Regions from separate parts of the Homo sapiens genome. Here region 1 is linked to region 2. The links come from fine-mapping of genetic effects on gene expression. A gene starts in region 2. The other region holds a variant in brackets. All regions are shown on one strand. Distances are between the middles of the regions. Region 1 overlaps SIMC1 (SUMO interacting motifs containing 1). Region 2 holds the start of KIAA1191.

The links. PIP is the estimated chance that this variant, and not a neighbour inherited with it, causes the effect.
Region 1: its variant is the best candidate, but not a certain one, in a credible set for the expression of KIAA1191 in whole blood (INTERVAL, PIP 0.55).

What each region holds. Positions count from the first base shown.
Region 1 is chr5:176,331,354-176,347,344 of GRCh38, forward strand. SIMC1 (SUMO interacting motifs containing 1) reads left to right here. Exons shown (of 10, transcript NM_001308195.2): 8 at 5,367-5,523; 9 at 5,709-5,793; 10 at 13,830-14,636. The coding sequence ends at 14,092. KIAA1191 reads right to left here. Exons shown (of 9, transcript NM_020444.5): 9 at 14,709-15,991. Among named protein-coding and RNA genes, the nearest start is that of KIAA1191, 22 kb to the right of the region's middle. The variant C/T (reference allele first, on the strand shown) is at 6,249.
Region 2 is chr5:176,357,670-176,370,959 of GRCh38, forward strand. It overlaps KIAA1191, which reads right to left and starts at 4,095. Exons shown (of 9, transcript NM_020444.5): 1 at 3,933-4,095; 2 at 2,142-2,249; 3 at 1,812-1,898. The coding sequence starts at 1,839. ARL10 (ARF like GTPase 10) reads left to right here and starts at 7,818. Exons shown (of 4, transcript NM_173664.6): 1 at 7,818-8,077; 2 at 8,711-8,912; 3 at 11,138-11,313. The coding sequence starts at 7,895. MIR1271 (microRNA 1271) reads left to right here and starts at 10,277; the gene lies at 10,277-10,362. RefSeq lists enhancers at 3,851-4,170, 7,283-7,532 and a silencer at 7,683-8,072.

The DNA.
Region 1 (15,991 bases), 25 kb before region 2:
AGCGAGACTCTGTCTAAAAAAAAAAAAAAAAAGTCAGTATCATGAAAGACAAAGCAATGTAAAGCAATTCTCCTGCCTCAGCCTTCTGAGTAGCTGGGATTACAGGTGCCCCCACCATGCCCTGCTAATTTTTATATTTTTAGTAGGGAAAGGGTTTCACCATGTTGGCCAGGCTGGTCTCGAACTCCTGTCCTCAAGTGATCCACCCACCTTGGCCTCCCAAAGTGCTGGGATTGCAGGCATGAGCCACTGCACCCAGCCCTATGTCTGCAACTTACTCTCAGATAATTCAAAGAAAAACAGACAGACAGATGGATAAAGAAGATGTGGTAGGCCAGATGCAGTTGGCTCATGCCTGTGATCCTAGCACTTTGGGAGGCCAAGGTGGGCGAATCAGCTGAGGTCAGGAGTTCAAGACCAGCTTGGCCAGCATGGTGAAACTCCATCTCTACTAAAAATACAAAAATTAGCCAGGTGTGGTGGCGGGCGCCTGTAATCTCAGCTACTCAGGAGGCTGAGGCAGGAGAATCGCTTGAACCCAGGAGGCCGAGGCTGCAGTGAGCCAAGATTGTGCCACTGCACTCCAGCCTGGGCAACAGAGCAAGACTGTCTAAAAAAAAAAACAAACAAACACAAACTTTGCATTATTCTTGCAATTCAGTATGTCTGAAATTGTCAATACAAAAAGATAAGAAAAAAGGTTATGTTTATTGTAAACAGTATATAGTTGGCATTTGTTGTTTTAGCCAGCTGAAAATTCCTGCTCTTTAATATAAGTATTGGTTTTATACCTGTAATCTGACTATTTGTTTCCTGTTTGTTCTTTCTTCCTCTTCTGGCTTTTGGATTGATTGAAGATTTTCTATTATTCCATTTTATCTCTCCTGTTGGCTTTTAGTTCTCTTTTTTAAATTAAAATCTTTTTGTTTGTTTTTGTTTGTTTGCTTGTTTTTTGAGACAGAGTTTTGCTTTTGTTGCCTAGACTGGAGTGCAATGGCACGATCTCAGCTCACCACAACCTCCGCCTCCCGGGTTCAAGAGATTCTCCTGCCTCAGCCTCCCAAGTAGCTGGGATTACAGGCATGCGCCACCAGACCCGGCTAACTTTGCATTTTTAGTAGAGACGGGGTTTCTCCGTGTTGGTCAGGCTAGTCTCGAACTCCCGACCTCAGGTTATCCACCCGCCTCAGCCTCCCACAGTGCTGGGATTACAGACATGAGCCACCGTGCCTGGCCTTAGTTTATTTTTAGATTAAAATCTTATTTTGACATAATTGTAAATTCACATGCAATTTTAAGGAATGTTAAATATTAAATAGTATTAGATAAATATTGTATTCAATATTACATATTATTGGATAAAAATAAATATAAACTTTATTCAATATTAAAATTATTAAAGAGTTCAGAGACAACCCAGATAATCTTTTTCCAATTTCCCCCAATGGTAATATATTACAAAACTATAGTACAGTATCACAACCAGGATATTGTGATTGACATAAGCCAAGATATAGAACATTTCCATCACTTCAAGGATTGCTCTTCTTGCCTTTTTATAGCCACACCCACTTCCCTCCCATCCCAACCCCTTTCTTAACCCCTTTCAACCATTAATCTGTTTTCCATTTTTTATATTTGTGTCATTTCAAGAATGTGATATAAATGGCCTAGGCACAATGGCTCACGCCTATAATCCCAGCACTTTGGGAGGCCAAGGTGGGCAGATCACTTGATGTCAGGAGTTCAAGACCAGCCTGGCCAACACGGTGAAACCCCGTCTCTACTAAAAATACAAAAATTAGCTGGGCGTGGTGGTGCGCACCTGTCATCTCAGCTACTTGGGAGGGTGAGACAGGAGAATCACTTGAACACAGGAGGCAGAGGTTGCAGTGAGCCAAGATTGCACCACTGCACTCCAGCCTGGGCGACAGAGCAAGAGTCCATCTCAAACATAAAAAGAAAAAGAAAATGATATAAATGGAATCATTTGGTATATAACCTTTTGGGACTGGCTTTTTTTCACTCAGCATAATTCCCTGGTGATTCATCCAGGTTGTGGGGTTTTTTTGGTGTTTTGTTGTGTTTTGTTTGAGATAGGGTCTCACTCTGTCGCCCAGACTGGAGTCCAGTGGTGCAATCTAAGCTCACCGCAACCTCTGCCTCCCAAGGCTCAAGTGATTCTCCTGTCTCACCCTCCCAAGTAGCTGAGATGACAGGTGCGCACCACCACGCCCAGCTAATTTTTGTATTTTTAGTAGAGACGGGGTTTCACCGTGTTGGCCAGGCTGGTCTTGAACTCCTGACCTCAGTTGATTCCCCCACCTGGGCCTCCCAGAGTGCTGGGATTACAGGTGTGAGCCACTGTACCTGGCCTAAATACAGATTTTTAATATTTTTTTTTTTGCCCCAACCTCTCTTATCTTCTGGGAATCTAAGTGTACATATAGATCTGTTCCACAGATCACTGAGGCTCTGTTTTTTTCTATTGCTGTTTAGTTTCATTTATTTTGTTTTCTCTCTTTCTCTCTCAATAGTCTTTAAAATCCATTTTTTTAATTCCCCCAGTGCCCAATCTGCTGTTAAGTCTATTATTGGTTTTTTTTTTTTGGAACTAGAGTTAACATTTGGTTCCTTTTTATTCTTTTTGCTGCAAGTCTTCATCTAGTCACTCATTATGTACATCTTAATTTACTTGCTTGCTTTTGAAAATCTTGAACATATTTATAATAGTTGTCTAAAAGCCCCTCACAACTAATTCCAACATGTATGTCACCTCTTGGTCTGTTTCTATGGACATTTGCTCCTGGTTATGAATTACATCTTCCTGCTTTTTTTACTTGTCTGGTAATTTTTATTGTGTTCTGGACATTGTGGGCACTACATTGTTGAGAGTCTGGATTTTGCTCTCTTTCTTTAAAGAGTATTGACTTTTATTCTGGCAGGCAGTTAATTTGCTGGCAGATTAGCTTTTTCCTGTTGAGGCTTGTTTCTAGGATTTGTGAGGTTGGTTCCACAGCAGCCCTTATTAAGGAGCTACATTCTTGAGGCTTAATCTTTCTGGGGTCTCAACTGAATGTCCAGGATATTCAGTGAGATCTCTCCACACTGACTCCTTGAAACACCAGTATCTTTCAGCACTCTGAGATCTCCAGAATTCCCAGCCAGCTTGCAACCCCCCAGTAGCTGTTCTCCACCAGGCTTTTGGGGCTTCCCCTACACATGTGCCAACAGGTTCCCTTACACACATTTCCTGAGCACCCTATTCTCTGACACAAATTCTAGACACCTCAGCTGTCCTAAACTCCAGCCTCTGTTTTGTCTGCCCAAGAAGCCCCCTCTCTTCTATTTTAGACCCACACCTTCCTCTGCCTTCATTAGAAAGTGCCCCCAGCAAGAAATCTGGAGTACATGAAGTTTACCACCTTTGTTTCTCTTCTCTCAAGAATCACAGTCCTGCAGGGCACAGTGGCTCATGCCTATAATCCTAGCATTTTGGGAGGCAGTTGGGGTGGATCACCTGAGGTCAGGAGTTCGAGACCAGCCTGGCCAACATGGTGAAACATGTCTCTACTAAAAATACAAAAATTAGCTGGGCATGGTGGTGGGTGCCTATAATCCCAGCGGCTCAGGAGGCTGAGGTAGGAGAATTGCTTGAACCCGGGGGGTGGGGGTGGAGGTTGCAGTGAGCTGAGATCAGGCCACTTCACTCCAGCCTGGGCAAAAGAGCGAAACTCTGTCTCAAAAAAAAAAAAATAATAATAATAATCATCACAGTCCTTTGTAGTAAGTTCTCTAATGCCTGAAAATGGTTGTTTTCTATATTTCCTCTGGTTTTATCATTGATTATGACAGAAAGGAAAGTCCAACATCAGTTACTGTGTTGAGGCTGGATCTAGATGTTGGCCTTTCTTTGTATCTTTTTTTTTTTTTTTTTTTTTTAGATTGAGTCTCGCTGTGTTGCCCAGGCTGGATTGCAGTGGTGCAGTCTTGGCTCACTGCAACCTCGGCCTCCCAGGTTCAAGCGATTCTCCTGCCTCAGCCTCCCAAGTAGCTGGGACTACAGGTGCACACCACCACGCCTGGCTAATTTTTTGTGTTTTAGTAGAGACAGGGTATCACCGTTTTTGCCCAGACTGGTCTCGAACTCCTGAGCTCAGGCAGTCCACCCGCCTCGGCCTCCCAAAGTGCTAGGATTACAGGCATGAGCCACCACGCCCGGCCTTGTTTTTAAATTTTTAATTTGAATTGCTCTAGGTAATTCTACGTACAGTTCCTACTGTGTTCCATATATTGAAATTATGTCCTTGTCCTTTGTAGATCTCTGAGTTTACCATCTGCAGATTATAAAGCAAGCCCTGGCACAAAAATTAGAAGAGAAAATAGTTTCAAATAAAAAAATACTATGGCCAGACACAGTGGCTCACGCCTGTAATCCCAACACTTTGGGAGGCCAGGGTGGGAAGATTGCTTGAGCCCAGGAGTTTGAGGCCAGCCCTGACAACATAGTGAGACCGCATCTCTACAAAAAAAATAATAATTAGCCAGGGACAGTGGCACACTCCTGTAGTTCCAGCTACTTGGGAGGCTGAGGTCAGAGGATCACTTTGAGCCCAAGAGATTGAAGCTGCAGTGTGTGATGATCACACCACTGCACTCCAGCCTGGATGACAGAGTGAGACCTGTCAGAAAGGCAGGGGTGGGGTGAGGGATGAAGGGAGAGGGAGGGAGGCAGGGAGGGGGAGAGAGAGAGAGAGAGAGAGATTAGAAAGCAAGAGAAAGAAAGAGAGAAATACCTCCTGCGTTGAGCCTTTTTTGCCCCTCGTAGACCACTCTCACCAGTGCTTCTGCCTCCATAGGAAGGCCACTTCCAGTCCCCAAATGTGCTCTCTTCTGTGTATCTCTGGAGCACCACTAGCACTTTGCATACAAGTACACTTGCCCTGCACTTTTTAAAGTTCCTTTTGCATACCCCTTGCCCCTGTTCAACTATCAGCTTTTTGAGAGTGGTTCCTTTTATTTATCTTAATATTCCTTGTTGTGCCAAATAGTATTTGGCACATCATTGGCATTCAGAAATATTCTCATGATTAATTTTCATAGTGACAATGTGTAGTAATTATTTTTAATGTGTCCTAAACTTGTCTTTGTCAAATGTGAAAGACTTTTTCCTCATTCTAGCAGTTGCTAATCCAACAAACCCATTTCTACCCTGTCCACAGGTTTTGTGATTCTGTGGGCTTCCATGGTATTCCTTCTTAACTGTCTTTTTTAGGACAAATGTTGTACATTCAGGGTGAATTGTGGCTCATGTTCTTTGAAGCATAGTTGTGATGATTAACTCCCTCTTCCTCTTCTCCACACAGAGAAATGTTCTTTACTACCATGGAAAGCCACCTTCTGCGCTGCAAAGTGTTAGAAATCATATTCCTCCACAGCTGTGAGACACCCACCCGCCTGCCTCTGTCTCTGGCCCAGGCCCTCTACTTTCTGAATAATTCTACGTCACTGCTCAAGTGTCAGGTACATTTTTTCCTGCCCAATTTCAGGCCTAGAGCACCTCTCTTTGCTCTAGGCCCGAACCCTTCCCATAGGATTTTAGCTTAAAACACAACTGTTTGAGCATTCTGTAAAGGTGAATTGAAAACTGTACAAAAATTTTAACTGGGGAAGGCATTTATTATCAATCCATTTTACTATCTCTGCAGTCAGATAAAAGCCAGTGGCAGACTTGGGACGAATTGGTTGAGCATCTGCAGTTTCTGCTGTCCAGTTATCAACATGTTTTAAGAGGTAAGGAGCATTTGTTCACAAGTGGAGTAGTGGAAGGTCTCAATGGACATTTGTATTAGTCATAACTACACAGGATATTCTGATTTGTTGACATTGTTCCTTGGTTGTATGTAACTTATTATAAGGGATAAGAAATGACATAGCCGGAGTCACCACTGTGAAAAGAATTCACATATTCTTGTTATGGCCGACAATACATGGTCCTCATAGTTGTAAGATTGTGTAGGTAAGCAGAAGTCATCAGAACCTCCAGCCTGGCCAACATGGTGAAACCCTGTCTCTACTAAAAATACAAAAATTAGCCAGGCGTGGTGGTGTATGCCTGTACTCCCAGCTACTCAGGAGGTTGAAGCAGGAGAATCATTTGAACCCAGGAGGCAGAGGTTGCAGTGAGCCAAGATCATGCCACTGCATTCCAGCCTGGGCAACAGAGTGAGACCCTGTCTCAAGGGGGG[C/T]GGAAAAAAAGAGAAGTCATCAGAACCTGAGAAGGACTCAGGAATGCCTGAAGACCCCTGGCATCCTCCCTTGGCCTGTCACTGCAGCATCTTTGCTCACTGACTGTGGACATTGTAAACATTGTAAACATCCGTCAATACAATGTAAGTACAGAGCAAATCAGGAGCAAGGTGAACATGTACATCTTGCAGAAGATGTAAGGTACTCTAAGTCTATGAAAGTGGCTCTTCAGAGCTGCTTGGGTCACAGGTGAAGCCAGTGACCAATGACGATGTAGGAGAGTTAGACCAGGTAACCCTCAGAAGGTAAATGTTGACCAGGATAATGATGGAATAGCTGCTTCAAATGAGAATGATTTTATTAGCCAAGGATTAATGAGGCCTGTGGGGAAACTGAAGAACTGATGAATTATTAATTACTAGAGGAAAAATAGTAACTTGCTAGGGGAGAAACCTGGCATTCTTCCTGGATGTGATTGACGGAGAAGGATGCATCATCATGTATGTAATGTTCTTGCCAAAAGTTCATGACCTGGATCCAATGGCCAGGACACTTCAGACAAAACCAGATTGAGTGACCTTTTATAAAATAACTGACCTGTACTTTTTTAAAGTGCCAGTGTTTTAAAAACAAAGACAGACTGAGATACTCTTCCACATTTAAAAGAAACTAAAGCACATAAATACTACATACAAGGCATGACCCTAGGCTGGATCCTGAACAGGAGAAAAGAAGTCATAAATGGGGAGACGAGAGTTTTCCAGAAAGAAAGAACAGCATGTCCTAGAGCCTTGAGGCTCTAGGACACACTAAGTTGCTTAGTGTGAGTCCAAGGAACATAGAACAAACTAGCAGGGCAAGGCTGTAGTACATTGTTCGGACAATTGGTAAAACTTTAGTAGATTAGATAACATTATTGTGTCCATATTAAATTCCCTATTTTTGATAATCATACTGGATTATGATAGTAAATGTCCTTGGCCTTAGGAAATCCATACTGAAGTATTGAGGGGTAGAGGGGTATAGTGTCTGCAACTTATTCCCAAATAGTGAGGGAAAAAAGTATACAAGTGAAATACACCTGCCCATGATCATATTTATGTTTATTTTAACTCAGTAATGGCACTTGGGAAAGTAAGATAGCTCTCAGACCCTCTCAGGCCAGGAATTGAGAAAGCTGTTGTAGAGACTTTAAAAAAAAAAAAAAAGTACTGGATTTAAGACAGAAAGTCTGAGTTTAAATCCGAACTTCACCATTTACTCAGTGTTGGGCAGCTAACTGTGTCTCTAGGCCTCGGTTTCTTCCTTCTATAGAATGGGGATGATAGTATGTAACTTGCAAGGATTATTAATGAGTGAAAAAAGTAATGTGTTTAATGTTCATTGAATCTGTCTTCCTGCGTCCCTGGGCAGAGGTAGGCTAAGGGTCTTCTCTGTGTTTCAGACTGTTGTAACTCACACTTAAAAGAGTACATTGTCGGCCAGGCATGGTGGCTCACGCCTGTAATCCCAGCACTTTGGGAGGCCGAGGCGGGCGAATCACAAGGTCAGGAGTTCGAGGCCAGCCTGACCAACATGGTGAAACCCCGTCTCTACTAAAAATACAAAAAAATTAGCTGGGTATAGTGGCGGGGTCTTGTAATCCCAGCTACTCAGGAGGCTGAGGCAGGAGAATCATTTGAACCCGGGAGGTGGAGGTTGCAGTGAGCCAAGATCGTACCACTACACTCCAGCCCTGGCGACAGAGTGAGACTCTGTCTCAAAAAAAATAAAAGAGTATGTTGTCCAGTCCATGCATGATATGTGGTTGTGCAGTTTGTGCATTTGTAGCACCCTCAAAGAAAGGTGCATGTCCTTCTCCAAACAAAGACCCGAAGGCAAGTTCCATGTGTTCTTACCCTCAGTGAGGCTTATGTAATTGTTTTGGAGATTACCAGAAAGGTTAATATTAACAGCTTGTTTTAAAGTTCACCTTTAACATTTCTTGTTCCTTTCTATTTTGATTCCCGGGGAATACACCTATCATGGGCAATAATGACTTAAGGTGGAAACGGAATCTACTTTTATTACAGAATATTTTTTATGTTTTGATAAGAGAGAGAAAGGCCTCAAACCAGTATATATTGACCAAGAATAAATGGGGTGTGTTGCAGTGCTGTTTTATCCTTAAATGTTTGTTCCAGCTTCTTTGGGGTCCAAGAGTTAGGAAGGAGGAAAATTAGCACTAGTAGTTTGAAAACATTGTCCTGCAAAGAACACAGCCGAATGGTACCCAGCAATAGTCAGCGTCCTTGTCAGTCAGTAAGCATCTTACTGTGAGGGCCCTTCGTCTCATCTCTGCCTTCTGCGAGTGGTCTGTGGATGTTGTTGAGGGCATTTTGAGATCAGTCTGAGTTGTCTAGCTCCACTAGTTGTCTAGCTGCAAGAGTGGGAGAAGAAGGGAAGGGATTAGAGAGCCCAAGCTTTCCTTTTGTTTAGGGGAACTCTCAGCATGGAGGAAGAAAGGAAAAGAGATTAGGTAAATTCACCTGCACTGGTTTATATAATCCAAAAACCTTGTGAAGGTATCACCCCCTGTTATAGATGGGAAAACAAAGGCTGAGAGAAAAGCAAATGCAGAGCTAGGATTCAAACAGGTCTGTCAGAGACACGGATTCTGGGCTGTCAATTGAGCTCATGTTCTTGTTCTTTGGCCGAGAGAATCAATCCCCCCCACCCCAGTTGCATAGCCATGTGGCTCAAGTTTCAGCCTCAGCAAAATTACAAAGTGCTGCCTGTCATGGAGTTTATGAGTATGAATTCTAGGGATTTGAACATATAATATTTCAATGAACAAATGCATGCTTTTCCTGAATCCTGCTTATCTGGCCAGCATAGCTTGCAGAAGTCAGTCACAGTCATTCTGAGGCCAGTCACACACACGGTCTCCCTGCAAGGAGCCCTGTCCACGGACGGGGAAAAGCAGAAGCAGGTAGGATCAGTTCAATTCATATATTTATCCAGGCAACAGATATCTACTGAATGTCCTCTCTGTCCTCTGTGCTCACTGGGAAAACCTTAATGAATAAGACCAGCATGGCATCTGCCCTCACAGAGCTTACTGTTTAGTGGAGAGATTGATCCTAAATGAATAATGATACAAGTAACCTATAGTTACATAGAGTAAATGCTATGAAGGAAGTACAAGTGCACAAAATCTATTTTTGGAGGGATCCAGGAAGGCCTCCCTGAAGAAGTGATACCTCATCTAAGACATTAAGTAGGCGGGGCGCAAGGGCTCACCCCTGTAATCCTAACACTTTGGGATGCTGAGGTGGATGGATCACCTGAGGTCAGGAGTTCAAGACCAGCCTGGCCAACATGGCAGATCCCCATCTCTACTAAAAATACAAAAATTAGCCAGGCGTGGTGGTGGGTGCCTGTAATCCCAGCTGCTTGGGAGGCTGAGGCAGGAGAATTGGTTGAACCCGGGAGGCAGAGGTTGCAGTGAGCTGAGATCGTGCCACTGCACTCCAGCCTGGGCAGCAGAGCAAGACTCCATCTCAAAAAGAAATAAATAAAAGACATGAAGTAATGGTGTTAGCCAGGCAAATGGGGAGACAAGAGTTTTCCAGAAAGAAGGCACTGAATGTCCAAGGGCCTTGAGGCAAAAAGATGCTTAGTGAGTCCAAGGAACATAGAACAAGCTAGCAGGGCAAGGATGTAGTGAGTAAGGGGAGAATAACACTAAATGAGACTAGAATAGTCCATGGAGGAGGTTGTGAAGGGCCATCTTGGCCATGCTAAGGAAATTCAGCTGGTTCTAATAACAGAGTGAAGCCATCAAAGTGGTTGGTTCCAAGTAAGGGAGTGTCATGATCAGATCTGCAAATTTAAAGGCTGCTCTACCTGATGTGTAGCGAATCATTTGGCAGAGGGCCAGAGGGGCCAGGGGAGGGGTAATGGTGACAAGGGTGTGGCAAGGACAGAAGGACAGTGGAGAAGGCAGTGGATGGGACAGAAGCACTTTGAAGATAACTTTGACAGGGCTCTTAAGTGACTGAGTCTGAAGGGTGACTCCCAGGGTTCTGCCATTACTGATATGGAGAAAGATCTGCAAAGAAGATGAAGAGCTCAGGTTTGACATATTAGGTAGGAGATTCCTATAGTGATGATGATGATGATGATGATGATGATGAAATAATAATTAACTCTTGTATTGATCCAAAACTACTAACAATACTATCAGCTGAAATATCTTGAGCCAGGCATTATGGCTCAAACCCTTTTCAATGCTAAATGTCCTCATACAGTAATCAGCAACCTCTGACATAACAACTCTTATCCCTACCGAAGCATAAAATCCAAGGCCTTGTTGACTAGACCAGCAGGGCTGAAGTCCACTGGCCAGGGTTTCCTCCCCCATAGACAGTGCTGAGATGGGCACTGCTAACATTTGCTTCTTTAACTTTCCTGCATGATTTAATAAACTCCACATTCTTCTTGCTTGCCCTCTAAGTTTCCCCTGTCCCACCCTATTCAGTCAACTTTTTTTCCACTTCTTTCAAAATCATTTTTGTATTTTTCAGAGTGGCACATGCCTTAAGAAAATCAAAGTCTACAAAAAGGCTCTTCCTAAGACAATTCCTAACTAGTCTCAAATAAAACAGCTCATATTTCCCTATTTACAACCCTCTAAGTCTATAGATACCCTGTTTGCTCTCAAAGGCCAAACTCCACATTATAATGTGGCCTACCCTACCTTCCAATCTCATCTAGTACTTGTCTCCCTTTTATTACTCTGATTTTTTTAAGTTTCTCGATTTATAAAGTCATTACCTTATGTTAGCTGAAACACTTTAAGTATCAAATGTAATTTTCATTGCCTTCCATGGATGCCATTAACGTGGTATATGCATCCCCAGTGCTTCCACCCAGTTCCAGAGGCTGGGAAGTCCAAGGTCGAGGGGCTGCACCCGGGAAGGACTTCTTGCTGCGTCTTACCACGGCAGAAGGCTTCCTACCCTGATTTTCTGTCTTGTTCTCTAAGCATGCTTTTCCTCAGGACATTTGCTATTGCTGTTCTCCATGGACTGCTTTTCCCTTTGACCTTTGCATGGTTGCCTCCTCATCCGTCAATACTCAGCTCACAGACCCTCCGTGGCTAGAGTGGGCTGCTTCCCTTATTCCCCTCAGTGTTACTGTTTATCACAGCATCTGATTTATTTATTTGATTGCATTTGCCACAAACTATAATCAATATTGTTGACTAACTTATCATCAGGCTTCCTGCAACTAGAATATCAGTCCACAAGGACTGGGCCCAAGGCTCTAAATTCCACTGTGTCCCCAGACTCTAGCCAGTTCCTGATATGCAGTAGGTGCTCAGTAAATGTGTGCTGTTTGAAGGTTGAAAGGGCCTTGCACTTCCATCTCAAGGCAGCTTTGTTTCCTGTGTTTCCAGACTTTTTGAACATGCTGTTGTATACTTACTGTACTTCTTCACAGATTACAGACTTTAGTTTTGAGAGATTTTGCTTTTCCATCATTTTATCTGAAGGTTGAGAAAAAACATATTGAATGTATTACTTGAAAATGTAACCTGATAAACCGCTTAAAATGTAACCTGATATACCACTTAAAATGATTTGTTCTGTGTCCTAAATCTGGATACAGTGTAGCTCAGTCCTTTTAATAACTGTTAGTGAAAGTGCCATCATCCCCGTTTGATAAATGAGGAGACTGAGAAATGATGGTGTACTTATGTGCAACTGGAAGTCTTCAAGTCCCCAGAACTCTCTCAATACATTTGCCTAATGTGACCTTCTGCTCATTTGCCTCAATTCCACACACTTCTAGAATCTATTGGGGCTGGCCTGTAGATTTGGGATGAGATACCTTTATAACTTTTTGTTTTCCTATTTTCATTTTTAGACCTACGGAAAAGTAGAAAGAATAGTATAACGAATGCCCATATATATACCGTTTACGCTGATTCATTAGCTTCTAAGATTTTGACACATTTGGTTTACCTATTGATCCATGTATATACCATTTTTTCTGAAACAGTTGATAAGTGCGCCATCATAATTGTATTGCTTAAGTACTTCAGCATGTTCAGCATGTATCTCCTAAGCGTAAGGATATTGTACTTCATACCACTGTGCATTATCACACTCACGAAACTTTTCTTTTTTTGTTTTTTTGTTTTGTTTTGTTTTGTTTTTTTTGAGACGGAGTCTAGCTCTGTCGTCCAGGCTGGAGTGCAGTGGTGTGATCTTGGCTCACTACAACCTCCACCTCCCGGGTTCAAGCAATTCTCCCACCCTCAGGCTTCCGAGTAGCTGGGATTACAGGCATGCACCACCATGCCCAGCTAATTTTTTTGTATTTTTAGTAGAGACAGGGTTTCACCATGTTGGCCAGGCTGGTCTCAAACTCCTGACCTCAGGTGATCTGCCCATCTCCGCCTCCCAAAGCACTGGTATGACAGGCATGAGCCACCACAGCCTGCCATGAAACTTGTTCTTGATAGAATATTATCTAATAGTGTCCCAGTAATATACTTTTTAGGTAGTTGATTTTAGATTGAGCCAGGATACGGTCAAATATGAAGCACTGTACTTGGCAGTCATACTCTTTGGTCTCCTTTAGTCCAGCACAGTTCCCAGCTTTTACTTGTCTTTCATAATAGACATTTTTTAAGAGTCCAGGCCAGTTATTTTGTACATGTCCTATGATTGGGATGTTTAATTGCTTACTCGTGATCACACTCATGTTAAATACTGTTGACAAGAACATGGAGTAGGCCAGGCACGGTGGCTCACACCTGTAATCCCAGCACTTTGGGAGGCCGAGGCTTGCGGATCACTTGAGGTCAGGAGTATACACACACACACACACACACACACACACACACACACACCTGAGACTGGGTAATTTATAAAGAAAAGTTTAGTTGGCTCACAGTTCTACAGGCTGTACAGGAGGCATAGTGGCCTTTGCTTCCAGTGAGGCCTCAGGAAACACAATCGTGGCTCAAGGGGAAGCAGACACGTTTTACGTGGCCACAGCAGAATAAAGAGTGAGGAGGTGCTACGTAAACACTTTAAACCACCAGACCTCATGATAACTCACCATCACTAGAACAGCACCAAGGGGATGGTGCTCAACCATTCATGAGAAATCACCCCCACCAGGCCCCACCTCCAACATCAGGGATTACAATTTGGGACTGTCTAGTTGTTTATTCATGATCATACTCATGTTAAATACTATTGGCTAAAACATGGACTAGATGAATATGTCTAATTGTTTCCTCAGTATTTTCATTTTTTGACCATGTTATGTGATCATAAAAAATGACACAGATCCAAACCATATCACTTTTTTTAATGTAAAACTTCTTAAGGACCCGAGAGAACTGAGAACAAAGGGCCTTTTGGAAGTGGAGTTACTGCAGGCACTCACACAGCCTTCGACTTGTATCCCTGTAGCTAGTCAGCAAGTCTTTGCCAAGACTCTACCTACCAAAATTAGACTTCTTAAAAAGAATTAAAAAGCAGTTCAGAGCACCCAACTGACTTTTTTCCCTCTTGCAGAACACTTAAGGAGTTCCGTGATCGACCGAAAGGACTTAATAATCAAAAGGATTAAGCCCAAACCCCAGCAAGGAGATGACATCACAGTGGTAGACGTAGAGAAGCAGATTGAGGCCTTCCGCAGCCGCCTGATCCAGATGCTGGGGGAGCCTCTTGTCCCCCAACTCCAAGACAAAGTGCACTTGTTGAAGCTCCTGCTCTTCTATGCTGCGGACTTGAACCCTGATGCAGAGCCCTTTCAAAAGGGCTGGAGCGGCTCCTGAGGGCCTGCCAAGCACTGAATGCCAAGAATACCTCCTGAACTCTCTCTCCAACTGCTCAGAAGCTCTAAAAGCATGAAAAGTGGTTAAAATCTTACAGGACCAAACCTGCATTATTTAATCAGTAGGTTGTAATTTCTAACTCTAGTAAATATCTTTTTTTAAATAATCCTATCCTAGCCTGTTCTCAAATATGGCTTAAATATACAAGGTATATATATTTTTTAATAAATTATTTATCTATACTTTTTTGAAACAGGTTAATACTCTGTGCATCACATGTTTAACATTTTCATTCAAGATGTGGAAAAAATCCCTCTGCTGAACCTAGTCTATACACCAATATTATGTCATTCAAGGTACCGACAACCTGTTTCAGGAGAGAGACGTTCATTTTTCCCTAATGAAATGCAAGCATTCTGTTAGACCTATTATATTGCCTGTTAATTTGACTGTAATGAATAGGGGGTAGAAACAAAAGGATCAAGTGTGTTATAAAACATTTGATGTTAAAAGGAGACAATAAAAAGGCAATGGTTTTTCAAAATACCAAGTTCAGTGTGACTCTGGGTGGGTAGAGTGGAATAACTATTGTTAAAAGGACAAAAAAATAGCCACATTTGAGAAAGTAGTAAGGATTTTTATTGTCAAAACGAGATCATAATAGAAGACACAAATAAATTAATTGTTCTCATAATTTTAGACTCCAGGGCCTCTCTATGGAAAGGCCAGCTTCTTATACAGACAAGGTACTATCCAAAACAAAAAGCAGGTATTTGAGACAGTGTTCAAGACAACAAGTGAACTTGTACACAGTGAAGAGAAATAAAAAGGTGGCTTCTGTATTTCCCTCCCTCAGTAAGGTTATGTGTTGCATAAAGGGATGAGGCTCATTTTGGTGAAAAATGCTTTCATACAGAAAATTTTGAATTGAGTGACCTCCCCGCACAGGCGTTCCAGGCCCTGACCTGAACAAGGAAATCAAAGTAAGTTAACACCACTGGCTTCACATGAACCTCAAGACTATAATCTAACGGTATCTACCATCTCCTTTACTTTAAAAAAGTTTAATGTCCATTTACCTATACCAAATCAGTAGACTTAATTTTCTCTCTTAGGAAGTTTTTAACCAAATTACAGCTAAATTAATCTCACTTTAAAGTGCAAGAAAGGCTCTGCTAGAGTAGTGTTTGTTCTGTGGCATAGAAAGAGGAGCATGCCTCCTCCGGCACTGGCCTAAGAGGCCCCACATGAAGAACTAGCTGCAAGACAGTGATCCATTAGGTCTGCCAAAAAGCAGGGGGACTCAAGGTTCAGCCTAGAAAGAGGGGTCCCTGCCAAGTCTGGCTTTTACCTGTACCCAGGTCCCAAACAAACCTTGGGTCCCCTAACTGATAAGGCTGGAGCACAGCACCAGTCATCAACAGGGCCAAAGTCGTCTTAGCGAGTCAGTGAGCACCTCTAAGCCATGATTTGTCAATGCTCACATGGATAGTGGTAAAGGAATAAAGAAGCCTGGGTTTTGGAACAGTACAAACATTCTTTACCTAGTAAGCAGTGATCAAAGTTCTTACCTAGGGTAAATGATGAAAAAAATAGGTAATGAGGTCCCCATACACCCGTGCTGAGAATATTAGTCTAACTTTAAAGCAGTACAAAATGGCTTCTTCCACACAACAAGGGCAAGCTTTATACTAATGTTTCTCAAAAACCAATTACATCTCCAGCTCTAGCCTCAATTTAATAGGTTTTTTACTTTACTTTATTTATTTATTTATTGATGGCGTCTCGTTCTGTCGCCCAGGCTGGAGTGTAATGGCATGATCTCAGCTCGGTACAACATCTGCTTCCTGGGTTCAGGCGATTCTCCTGCCTCAGCCTCCCAAGTAGCTGGGACTACAG
Region 2 (13,290 bases):
TGGGCACAATCCTATGGCTCGCGACGGCTACACGGAGTTTGTGGTAATCACAGCAACAATGAAAGACAAACTAAAACGGAGCTGATGATGTTAAGACTAGAGATGGATCTATATTGGGGAATACGGGAGACTTGGGGAGCAATTTCAAAAACATCTTAAAGACTCCCACTGAACAGCCATCCTAAAACAAATAAAGTCAGCTAGTATTTACTGGAAAATATGTTCATATAAAGACAGACCAAATGCATTCTGGGCAGTAAATACATATTTATCACTGATTTTTAACTCCTGTTTTTACATATTTTGTTTAATCTTCACAACCCCGAGAGATAGGAACCATCATCTTTCTTCATCATCATACTTTACCGAGAATCAGAAATTAAGCGATTCAGATGTAATTAAAAATCACTTTCCTTTCTCATAAAACAATTCAAGTAGTCATCAATGGTGTCAATAACCCAGAACTTGACTCATTAAGGGTTGCTGTGAGCATTTTCATGATTAAGTTCAATCTGCCATTTAAGCAGGCTGGTGCCTTTTTACCAAGACTTCCATCCCACCTCCCCATCACCCCCAAAAAGGTGAGTTTAATCACTTTGGTACATACTACAAGAACTGCACAACTTATTCTGAATTATTATTTGATAACTAGGAAAGTAACAAACTTGTCATAATACCCTTAAATGAAGTGACTATTCTCTTTAAGTTAAAGTTTCATACTATGGCTGAGCGGCTAATAAAATATTTAAATGATGCCAATCTAAGGCTAGGCGTGGTGGCTCACACCTGTAATCCCAGCACTTTGGGAGGCCAAGGTGGAAGGATCACCTGAGGTCAGGAGTTTGAGACCAGCCTGGCCAACATGGAGAAACCCTGTCTCTATTAAAAATACAAAAATTAGCCGGGCGTGGTGGCAGGCAGCTGTAATCCCAGCTACTCGAGGCTGAGGCAGGAGAATCACTTGAGCCCAGGAGGCGGAGGTTGCAGTGAGCTGAGATCACACCACTGTATTCTAGCCTGGGCAGCAGAGTGAGACTCAAAAATAAAATAAAACTGGCTGGGCGTGGTGGCTCACACCTGTAATCCCAACACTTTGGGAGGCCGAGGCAGGCAGATCACAAGGTCAGGAGTTCCGCCGGGCACGGTGGCTCACGCCTGTAATCCCATTACCTTGGGAGGCCGAGGCGGGCGGATCACAAGGTCAAGAAATCGAGACCATCCTGGCTAACACGGTGAAACCTCGTCTCTACTAAAAATACAAAAAATTAGCTGGGCATGGTGGTGGGCGCCTGTAGTCCCAGCTACTCGGGAGGCTGAGGCAGGAGAATGGTGTGAACCCGGGAGGCGGAGCTTGCAGTGAGCTGAGATCGCGCCACTGCACTCCAGCCTGGGCGACAGAGCAAGACTCTGTCTCAAAAAAAAAAAAAAAAAAAAAGGTCAGGAGTTCCAGACCAGCCTGGCCAATATGGTGAAACCCCGTCTCTACAAAAAATACAAAAATTAGCTGGGTGTGGTGGCGGGCACCTGTAATCCCAGCTACTGGGGAGGCTGAGGCAGGAGAATGGCTTGAACCCAGGAAGCGGAGGTAGCAGTGAGCCGAGATTGTGCCGCTGCACTCCAGCCTGGGCAACAGAGCAAGACTCCATCTCAAAAAAATAAAATAAAATAAAATAAGCCAATCTAGTAAATCTAAATACTCGCTTGGTAGCAGAGATTAACCATTAATATATAGTTCCGATAAAATGGTTTCTGTCTAGCTTAAAACATTAATAAGGGCAAAACATGATTTTACCAAAAAGAATTAAGTTTACCAGGCACTTCTGGTTGTCTTGAAGCCATTGAAAGACTGGGATCCAGGTGCTTTTTCTATACAGAATTCCGAGCTGAGTCCCTGCCACCTAATAAAATAACAAAGGGCATTTTCTTATGGTGAGCAGCACCAATGCTGTTCTTCTGGCAGGCACACAGAATTGAACGGCTTGTTTACAAGGTTGAAACACACATGCAAGAGCCAGTGGGTGACAAACATGCCAATGAAAAAAGAAGGATAAAGTCAAACGTCTCACCACACCTGTGGCTGATCTTAACACCTGTGAGATGACAGAGCTAAGATGCCATACATGGTGAAAAAGTCACCTTACCACAGTGAAATGATGTGATGACTAAGCGGACAGACAGATGTTAATGAGGAACATGGTCCAGCTGCTGCAAAGTAGCAAAGCTTCCCAGGAAGAGTCCATCCAGAGGTTCTAATAACAACAAACAGCCAGCATTGGAACAGCCCGTCAGAGTCTGCCAAACACTTGTTTATTCCCCACAACAACCTTGCTCATTTCATTTTCTTAACTCACAGCAAGCGGCTAGATACTACAGTAGGGAAATTTGTTCTTTATAGCTAACACTATAAACTATTTACAGCGTTTATCTTGTCTTTTAATCCTTGCAGCAAGATGGCAAAGCAGATATTATTTATCCCAATCCCAATTTTTTTTTTTTTTTTTTTTTGAGACGGAGTCTCACTCTGTCGCCCAGGCTGGAGTGCAGTGGCGCGATCTTGGCTCACTGCAAGCTCCACCTCCCGGGTTCACGCCATTCTCCTGCCTTAGCCTCCCAAGTAGCTGGGACTACAGGCGTCTGCCACCACGCCTGGCTAATTTTTTGTATTTTTAGTAGAGATGGGGTTTCACCGCACTAGCCAGGATGGTCTTGATCTCCTGACCTTGCGATCCGCCCACCTCGGCCTCCCAAAGTGCTAGGATTACAAGCGTGAGCCACCGCGCCCGACCCCAGTTTTTTTTTTAAGCTATCTCTTACAGAAAGGCTATCCCAAATTTAAAGAGAAGGAAACTGGCCGGGTGCGGTGGCTCACGCCTGTAATCCCAGCATTTTGCGAGACCCAGGCGGGCAGATCACTTGAGGTCAGGAGTTCGAGACTAGCCTGGCCAACATGGTGAAACCCCATCTCTACTAAAAATACAAAAATTAGCCGGGCATGGTGGCGGGCGCCTGTAATCCCAGCTACTCGGGAGGCTGAGGCAGGAGAATAGCTTGAACCCGGGAGGCGGAGGTTGCAGTGAGCCGAGATCGAGCCACTGTACTCCAGCCTGGGCGACGGAGTGAGACTCGGTCTCAAAAATAAAAATTAAAAAAATTAAAAAAATGTTAAAAATAATAATAAAGAGAAGGAAACTAAAAATCAGAGGAGTTAAGTAAATTTGTCCACGGTCACAGATAAGTGGTCCGTGCGCAAGGTAGGTAGTTTCATGCCCAGTTTACAGGGGAGTTAAAACGAGGGCCTGAGAAAGTTACTCTTGTTTTTCAGCTTGCTACACCGTCCCTCTATCCCGATAGGACTCAGACAGAGCAAACAAGTTATTGATAGTTCTTCACTAACGAGCATCGCAAAGGCCGAATTCAGCCATCCTCCCAGTCCAGGGAGCATTCCCGCCCCAGACACGTCCCCTTCCCCTTTCCCTTTCCCTGTGCCCCCACCCCCCAGCTCACCGTCCCTCTGCCTCTCCTTCACAATATACAAGACGGTGCCGCCAGGATACGAAAGGCCGGCTGCTTCACCCACCCCTCCAGGCTAAGATTAGGGCCAGGACCCTAGCCGAAGGCGGGGTGTGGGGAGATGAGGTTGAGGACAAGCCGCGGGGGCTCGGGCTGGGCTGGTCCCACGAAGCGGAGGGGAAGCCCGTACGGGAGCTGCAGGGCATTCCCGGAGAGAAGCCCCATTACGGAGACCCCAGAGAGCGGAGCCAGGGAGGCAAGAGGCGACCCAGCCGAGCTCGAAGCCGGGATGAAGGGTTAAGAGGTGCGGGGAGAGGGGAGTGGCTTGGAGGGGCCCCGAGATCGGGCCTCGCCGGAAGCGCCCCTCCTGATCGCCAGAGAACGCAGCCCCAAGGGAGGGCCCAGGCCCGCCATCTGTTCACCTGTGATCCTGCTGCCGCGGGACTGCCTGCGGCCCGGAGTCCGGCACTAAAAAGGTTCCGAGGGCCCACGTCTCCCGAGAGGCTGTGGCGCAGTCTGGACCCAAGCCATTGTGAGAGCGGCGGCGATTTCGAAGGTCCCCAAGACCCACTAGGTAGCAGTACCACCCAGCGGGCAGGCAGCACTGCAGATAAAGCCTCCGGAGACCGCGGGATCTCGCGCGAGACTTGGCCCAGCGGAGCACAGGGCATGCTGGGAGTTGTTGTCCACGATCGCGAGACCCGCCCCCTCCCCATGCCCTTCGCCGCCCAGCGAGTTGTGGAGCCGCAGCTCCGAGTGTGGAATCCGCCAGCCCCGAGAGGAAACGCCACACTTCACCACCACTTCCTCAGCGCGTGTGCTGTGCCTGGGTCCGTGACAAGCTAAGGGAAGACGGAGGTAGCATAGTAAAATGACACCCACAAACCCAAGCCCTCAAGGCTCAAAAAGGGCTGCCAAGTGCGAGCACTTGTCATCCTGTTTTTCCCACTTCACGGAGGTGAAGCTGAGACTGGGAGAGATGAGAAGTCACTTCGATTAGCAAGCGGTGCAGTGAGCACGGACTGTCTCCCAAAACAGCGGGGTTAGGCAGGGTTCGTACTAGTAGCTGAACCAAAAAAGGGAACCGACCTCACCTGCCTCCCCTAGGGAAGGCGATCCTAATATCATTTCTCTTTTACATAAAGGAGAGTGAGGCTTAGAGGCGCCAGCTGAGGTGTCAGTCACATCCTGAAGGAAGACTTCTCTTATCCCTGAAGGGTTCACAAAGAAGGCGAAGCAACGAAGTTACAGCAGAATTTGCAAAAATCTATCCACGTTTCTACCCCAGTCCAAAGCTCGCCATCAAAACTCATCTCAGGAGAGCTATGATTGGTGGTGCAGGGTGAATGTCACATTTAGATTTCAGCATTTGAGGCTTCCAGCCGTACTGGCAGAACTGAGAGGCCTTGCTCATGCGACTTGAAACTTAAGCGCTGTTTCCAGACCAGGGTGCTTGAGTGCACTAAGAATTAAAGTCTTTGATGAATTCTATAATTAGCTTATCAACAGCACAATTACATTGCAGTATAATTGTGTGTATATGTGTGCGTGCGTGTGTGTGTTAAAGGTGTTCCTTTGTTAATTTGGAGCTTTTAAAATATGCCATATTTTTTAACCTCTGTGGAAGCAAAGCTGGCACCTTGCTCTTTATCCACCACAGGAAGGGATGTATATCACCTCTCAGTCAGAAAAGGAAGAAATAGCACTTTGCACCCTTATGTAGATCATAAGGTGGGATCATCTCATTTATTTCTTAGCCACAAATACATGAAAACTTAAGACTTTCCTGGAAGTTACTATTTGATTAAAACAACTTTTTCTGGCTGGGCACGGTGGTTCAGGCCTGTAATCCCAACACTTTCAGAGGCTGAGGCGTTCGAGACCATCCTGGCCAACACGGCGAAACCCCGTCTCTACTAAAATACAAAAATCAGCCAGGCGTAGTGACAGGTGCCTGTAATCCCAGCTATTCTGGAGACTGAGGCAGGAGAATCTCTTGAACCTGGGAGACGGAGGCTGCAGTCTGCCTTGTCCTAGGTACCCCCAGTGACTGCCAAGGCTTCCACGTGTGTAGCACGAGGAGGAAGAACAGGAGAAACGACCTGAGTACAGCAGTCGGGTTCTTTTGGCTCTCCAGAGGGGTGACGCCATGTACGGCTGGCTGTAGGGTACATGGGTTGAGAGACCGCCTGTGGCTCTCAGGGCCCAGCAGGGCTACCTCTTTCCCTTTATATTGTCTCAACTCTTCACCTCCTTTTAGTTCGCGATTCCTCTGTACCCCTGGCTCTGGGTCCCAGCCCCTATTCCTTCTGATTTGTCCCCCTTTCCCTTTGACTACATATATATGCTCCTCTCCTCCCAGATAGTGATGTTTTAGCTACATCTTATTTCTTCCGGCATTGATTCTTTTGAAAAATTTATTTCTGGCTGGGTGTGGTGGCTCATGCCTGTAATCCCAGCACTTTGGGAGGCCTGAGATCACACTACTGCACTCCAGCCTGGGCTACAGAGTGAGACTCCATCTCAAAAAAAAAAAAAACTTTATCCCTGATATTTGTGGTACCAATGTCTGAAGCTGTCATGGTCTTGGTGCATAGCACCTATGTGAGAGCACCTATTTCTTTTCCACAAATAATAGACTGTAAACATTTTTTTTTTTTTTTTTTTTGAGACAAGGTCTCGCTCTGTTGCCCAGGCTGGAATGCAGTGGCGCAATCTCGGCTCACAGTAACCTCTGCCTCCCAGTTTCAAGCGATTCTCCTGCCTCAGTCTACCAAGTAGCTGGGACTACAGGCGCCTGCCACCACGCCCGGCTCCACGCCCGGCTAATTTTTTGGATTTTCAGTAGAGATGGGGTTTCACCGTGTTAGCCAGGATGGTCTCGATCTCCTGACCTCGTGATCCGGCCGGCTGCCTCGGCCTCCCAAAGTGCTGGGATCACAGGCGTGAGCCACCGCACCAGCCAAACTTTTAATCTTAGCAATTTTGTGGGTTTTCCCCTCTAAGTGGGTGTATTTTTGAGGAGGAGCTAATTTTTTTTTCTTTTTTTTTTTTTTTGAGACGGATTCTTGCTCTGTCACCCAGGCTGGAGGGCAGTGGCGCAATCTCAGCACACTGCAACCTCCTCCTCCTGGGTTCAAGCGATTCTCCTGCCTTAGCCTCCTGAGTAGGTGGGATTACAGGCACGTGCCACCACGCCCGGCTAATTTTTGTAGAGATGGGGTTTCACCATGTTAGGCAGGCTATTCTCGAACTCCTGACCTCAGGTGATCCGCCTGCCTCGGCCTCCCAAAGTGCTGGGATTACAGGCATGAGCCACCACACCCGGCCAGAAATAAATTTTTCAAAAGAATCAATGCCGGAAGAAATAAGATGTAGCTAAAACATCACTATCTGGGAGGAGAGGAGCATATATATGTAGTCAAAGGGAAAGGGGGACAAATCAGAAGGAATAGGGGCTGGGACCCAGAGCCAGGGGTACAGAGGAATCGCAAACTAAAAGGAGGTGAAGAGTTGAGACAATATAAAGGGGAAGAGGTAGCCCTGCTGGGCCCTGAGAGCCACAGGCGGTCTCTCGACCCATGTACCCTACAGCCAGCCGTACATGGCGTCACCCCTCTGGAGAGCCAAAAGAACCCGACTGCTGTACTCAGGTCGTTTCTCCTGTTCTTCCTCCTCGTGCTACACACGTGGAAGCCTTGGCAGTCACTGGGGGTACCTAGGACAAGGCAGTCAGCCCTAAACATTCTGAAGTCCTGACACTGCTTAATTCAGCCTGACCAGGACCCCAGCAAAACCCCTGTGGTCCGGGAGGCAGCGAAAGAAGGCTAGAGGTGGCGGGGAGCCACGGACCTGGGTTCTATTCCTGCCTCTGCCACCCCACTGCCGTGTGATATCGGGCGTCTTGCTTCAATTTCCTCCCGAGGTCTTGAGGGATGACCGGGAGACAGATCGCTTGGGTTTGAACGCAGGCTACACCAAAGCACTACGATGCGGCGTTGGGCGGGTTACTTAACTCCTGGGCCTCGGTTTTCCCTTCTGCGTGGTATCATTGTAAGGGGTAACGGAGAAAAGCCGTGAGCTAACCCCTGGTGGATGCTAGCAAGCACCGCCGTCTCCCGTCCTCCCCAGGCACAGCCTCTCCTTCCTCCACCCTGCACCTGGCAGGGGGACCGGAGGTCCCCGCGCGCCGGCCAGCGCCCCACCACCCACGCCGCCGGGTCCCGGGCGGCCTGCCGTGACAGCGGCAGTGCATTGTGGGGCTTGTAGTGCGGGACTGGGTCTGGGTGGGTGGGCGCGGCCGCAGCAGTCGCAGCGGGGCCATCTTCGGCGGGCGAGTGGGCTCGGCCTGTGCAACCCGCACCTGCGTCCCTCGCCCGGCCCGATGGCGCCGCGGCCGCTGGGCCCCTTGGTGCTGGCGCTGGGCGGCGCCGCGGCGGTGCTGGGCTCGGTGCTCTTCATCCTCTGGAAGACCTACTTCGGCCGCGGCCGAGAGCGGCGCTGGGACCGGGGAGAGGCCTGGTGGGGCGCGGAGGCTGCCCGCCTCCCCGAGTGGGACGAGTGGGACGTGAGTGCCGGGCCGAGGCCTGCGGAAGGGCGGGCAGGCTGGGCTGCGACTCCGCGCATGTGGCCAAGGGGTGTGACCACGGAACGGCCCTGCTGGTGCCGGGAGCTTGGGGGGTCGAGGGCTTGGCAGCCGCAGCGCACAGGCCCCGCGCGGGTGGGCGGTCAGAGCCCGGGAACCGAGGAACGGGTGGGTGTGCTTGGGTGCGTGCGGCGCCTTGGCGCCACGCCGTCGCTCCACGCCATGAGGCTCGGGTGTTCCAGCGGGGGCCGGAGTTTGGAGGGCGCGGCTCGGGAGCATCCCGGGGCCCAGCCGGGTCGGCTCGCGCCCCTCCGGCGCCTGCGCAGTGCACCCCGCCCGGGGGTGGGGATGTCGGGAGAAACCCCATCCCCTCCCGCCTGCGGTCGGGACTCCGAGACCGGTGGAGGAAGCGGGGCGCGCGAGCGTTTAAGGAATTCGCCAAGGGTTTGGAATTCAGGACTGCAAAGGCGGCGTTCGTCCCACTCATCCAGACCATGCCTGCCTGTCCCAGGACGGGTGGAAGGCGGGCCTGGGCCCTCTGGTGCCTTCGGTCTTCCCTCGGGAAAGGTCCTTCGGGAGGCCGCCAGCCGCAACCTTACCTCCGCTTCCCCGCAGCCCGAGGACGAGGAGGACGAGGAGCCGGCGCTGGAGGAGCTGGAACAGCGCGAGGTGCTGGTGCTGGGGCTGGATGGCGCAGGCAAGAGCACGTTCCTGCGCGTGTTGTCGGGGAAGCCACCGCTGGAAGGCCACATCCCCACCTGGGGCTTCAACTCCGTGCGTCTGCCCACCAAGGACTTTGAGGTGGACCTGCTAGAAAGTGAGCGGACACCCTACCCCATCTCCCCGTCTCCTCTACTGGACCAGTCCTGGATTCTCTGCAGGGAAGGGGGCTTCCAAAATGCATGTCTAAGCAGCACATTCCCCTCTACGAATCCTTCCCACCGCTCTCCGGGGCACAGGATTCAGCCCACGCTCTGTGCTCTGACATTTAGGGCCCTTCGTGATCGGGCCTCTCCAGCTGCACCGCCTGCCCCATCACCCCTACCAAAGTCGATAGGCCTAACACAGAGATACTAACAGCTAAGGGTTCATATGCCAAGCACTTGACGGGCATTGCTTAAGAAAACTCCCCTAAACAATTACATAAAACTAGAATCGGTCACTACCCTCGTTATCTCCAGAGGAAAATGAGTTCCAGCAGTAGTATCATGAATCCAAGGTCACCCACCTTTCTAGTCTTTTTTTTTTTTTTTTTTTTTTTGAGATGGAGTCTCACTGTGACACCCAGGCTGGAGTGCAATGGCGCTGTCTCGGCTCACTGCAACCTCCTCCTCCCGGGTTCAAGCGATTCTCCAGCTTCAGCCTCCTGAGCAGCTGGGATTACAGGCGCCCGCCACCACGCCCGGCTAATTTTTGTATTTTTAGTAGAGACGGGGGTTTCACCACATTGGTCAGGCTAGTCTTGAACTCCTGACCTCAAGTGATCTGCCCGCTTCGACCTCCCAAAGTGCTGGGATTACAGGCGTAAGCCATCGCACCCCACCATTCTAGTTTTTTTTTTTTGGAGACAGGGTCTCTGTCGCCCAGGCTGGAATGGCAGTGGGCAGTGGCACACCCTCCTCCACTATTGCCTGTCTGGCCCAAACTAGTGTCATCTTTCCTCTCAGCACCACAGCCTCCTCTTTGGTCTTCCTGCTTCCCCTTCTGTCCCTAGTGTCAGCTAGAGAAAACCCATGTCAGGTAATGTCACTCTTGCTTAAAGCCCTTGGGGGGCTCCCCACCCCCTCACTGTGGTCTTTGGCCCCATGTGGCCCGCCCCAGCCAGCCTCACAGCCATCTCTTTCTCCTTCTTGCAGTGCCTCAGCACCCCAGCCTTCTTTCTGTTTCCCAGACACTTCCAGCATGCTCTCCCCTCTGTCTGGAATGCTTTCCTCTGCCTCTTCCCATGGCTGGCTCCTTCTCATCATCCCACTCAGCTCACATGCCACTTCCTTGATGAGACCTACCCAGACCACCCAATCCAGGGCCAACCCCTGTTCCACCTCAGCCACTTTCCCTTTTTTCTGTTTTATTTCTTTCCTTTTTGAAATGTGTTGATGTCATTGCCATGTCCTTCCCAGTTAGGGAGGGAGCTCCTTGGTGCAGGGCCCCTGCTTGCCTTGCTCACCTCTGTATCTGCAGCACCCAGATCAGTGCTTGGCACCTAGCAAGCACTCAGTAAATATTTGTTGAGTGCCTGCTATGTGCCAGGCATTGTGCTGAGGGCTTTGTGGGGATTCAGAGGTAAGTGCCTCTGACTCTCACAGCTTAGAATCCTCAAGTGTCAGAAACATAGCCAGAAACACTAGGGTGCGGGGTGACCAATGGGACTGTGCAGAGGAGCAGAGAGGAAAAGAAAGGTGATCCAGGCTGGGGGACTGTGTTGGCAACCATGTGTTCATAGGATGAAATATGACATTTCCAAGGGAAAAGAAGGGGATGGGGGAAACTGAATGGAGAATGGCTGTGTATAGGCAGGGCAGGGGGTCCTGAGTTTTCTAGACAATAGGACTCCTGGCTCCTGTCACAGCCATCACTGACAGTTTTGAACCTGTAGGAGAAAGCTAGGAATTAGCAAGAGGCAAAGCCAGACAACCCAGGGGAGAGAACTGAAGACTTCCATTTACTGAGCACCTGTGTGTCAGTCCCGTGAAAGGTACATCGCACGTGGTACCTGTGGGTTTTACTGCAACAACCCGTTAGGAAAGTTCAGTGAGGAGACTGGTGCTTAAAGCTAGGGACTTGCCCCAAGAGACCCGCCTATCAGAGCTAGAGCTAAATCCAGTCTGAGTAGCTGCGGAAACTGCGGTCTTTTCCTTGCCCCCGGCTGGTGGAAGCTCACTAAGCTAGAAGCAGGGTGGGGTGGGGGCTGTGGGCAGTGAGCGGGGGCCCGGGGTGGGGTGGGGGCTGTGGGCAGTGAGCGGGGGCCCGGGGTGGGGTGGGGGCTGTGGGCAGTGAGCGGGGGCCCGGGAGGCTCTGAGCTGGCCCCTGGCCTCTCCTCAGTTGGGGGCAGCCAGAACCTGCGCTTCTACTGGAAGGAGTTTGTGAGCGAGGTGGATGTGCTGGTGTTTGTGGTGGACTCGGCTGACCGACTGCGGCTGCCCTGGGCCCGACAGGAGCTGCACAAGCTGCTGGACAAGGACCCTGACCTGCCTGTCGTCGTGGTGGCCAACAAGCAGGTGAGGGCTGTGAGAGGGCAGCTCGGTCCAGGTGACATCCACTCAGAGATGCTTGGGCAGGGGCAAGGAGCGCTGCCTGGGCCCATGGCCTGGAGAGGGTGGCTGAGATGCTGCCCCCACCTCTTCTACCTATGCCCTGTCCTGATCCCTGCCTCTGTCTTCCTTCCTCTTTGCCTCCCTATCATCTCGTACTCTGGAGAGATGAGAAAAATAATTATTAAGTGCCTCCTATATGCCAGGCATGGTGTTTTGTTTTTGTTTTTTTTTTGAGACAGAGTCTTGTTCTGTCGCCCAGGCTGGAATGCAGTGGTGTGATCTCGGCTCACTGCAACCTCCACCTCCCGGGTTCAAGCAATTCTTGTGCCTCAGCCTTCCGAGTAGCTGGGATTACAGGTATGTGCCACCACACCCAGCCAATTTTTGTATTTTTAGTAGAGGTGGAGTTTTGCCATGTTGGCCAGGCTGGTCTTGAACTCCTGACCTCAAGTGATCCGCCCGCCTCAGCTTCCCAAAGTGCTGGAATTATAGGCATGAGTCACTGTGTCTGGCCCCCAGGTGTGGTTTTGAATAACATTTCTTCTTATGCTTCTGTTGACCCTATAAAGTATGGGATGCTATTCCCATTTTATAGATGGGACAGGCTAGTCTTATAATCTTTCCAAGGTTGTACATCTTGAGAGTAATAGAATTGGTCCAGGCGTGGTGGCTCAAACCTCTACCTCCAACACTTTGAGAGGCCAAGGAAGGTGGATCATTTGATTCCAGGAGTTCGAGACCAGCCTGGGCAACATGGTGAAACTCCGTCTCTACAAAAAAAATGCAAAAAATTAACTGGGTGTGGTGGTGCCTGCCTATAGTGCCAGCTACTTTAGAGGCTGAGGCAGAAAGATCACTTGAACCCAGGAGGTCGAGGCTGCAGTGAGCTGTGATCACACTACTGCACTCCAGCCTGGGTGACACAGCGAGACCCTATCTCAAAAAAAAAAAAAAAAATAGTGGAATTGGGACGTGTAATGCTAAAGCTGTACCTTTTCCACTCTGCTATGCCCTTGCAAATTCTGGCTCTAGATCAGAGAGCTGAAGCTGGTAACTGATGAGAGGTAGAACAGGTTAAATAACAGCTAACATTTATTGTGTGCTTACGGTGTGCCATACATGTGGTAAGCACCTGACAATCATGACCTCACTTCCCTCTAAATACCTCGTGATAGGCCCTGCTGTTACACTAAATACCTGGAGTTGCAGCTGGCATGTGGCAAAGCCCAAACTTGAACTCAGATATTCTTCAAAGTTCCTCCTCTTAACCAGTGTGCTGTACCTCTCTTGGGTGCCAGAGAGTCGCCTTGGGCCCAGGAACCCTCAGTATCACAGACCTTGGGTCCCATTCTCAATATCAGGTGAAACTGCCAGAGTACAGAGTCTGATCATATTTCCTGTGGCCTAAACTCAGGTGCCTCTGAGAGCTGTGGGACCTGTTTCCAACTTGACATGGAGAGAGACTGTATGTCTTCGACCTCAGATTCCCCAACCTATTAGGAAACATTTGACAATTATTTATAAATAGGGTGACTGTATGTCCTTTTCTGTCCAAGACAGTCCCCATTTACGACTCTTGTTCTGGCACTATTAATAGTGCCCGCTCTGAGCCTCAGATTGCCCCAGTTTGGACCAGGAATCACATCATGTCCTATTTATAAACTAATTTATAGCAGTTTTGAACCTGTAGGAGACAACATCTAAGGTCCCAGCAGTCTCTGAATTGCTCCAGGAAGAATCATTTAAATCTTGGGCCAGGGTTGAAATTACAACATACCATCACCAGTCATGCTGTGTAGTGGTCCCTTGTTTTCCTCCAGCTAGTTTCTAGAGGTCTTGTCTGGAAGTGATCCTACTGTATCATCTCTCCATGACTGAGTTTAGGAAACTTGGTTATCAAACCAACCTGAGTTGGCACCTGGCTCTACCACCTATCACTGT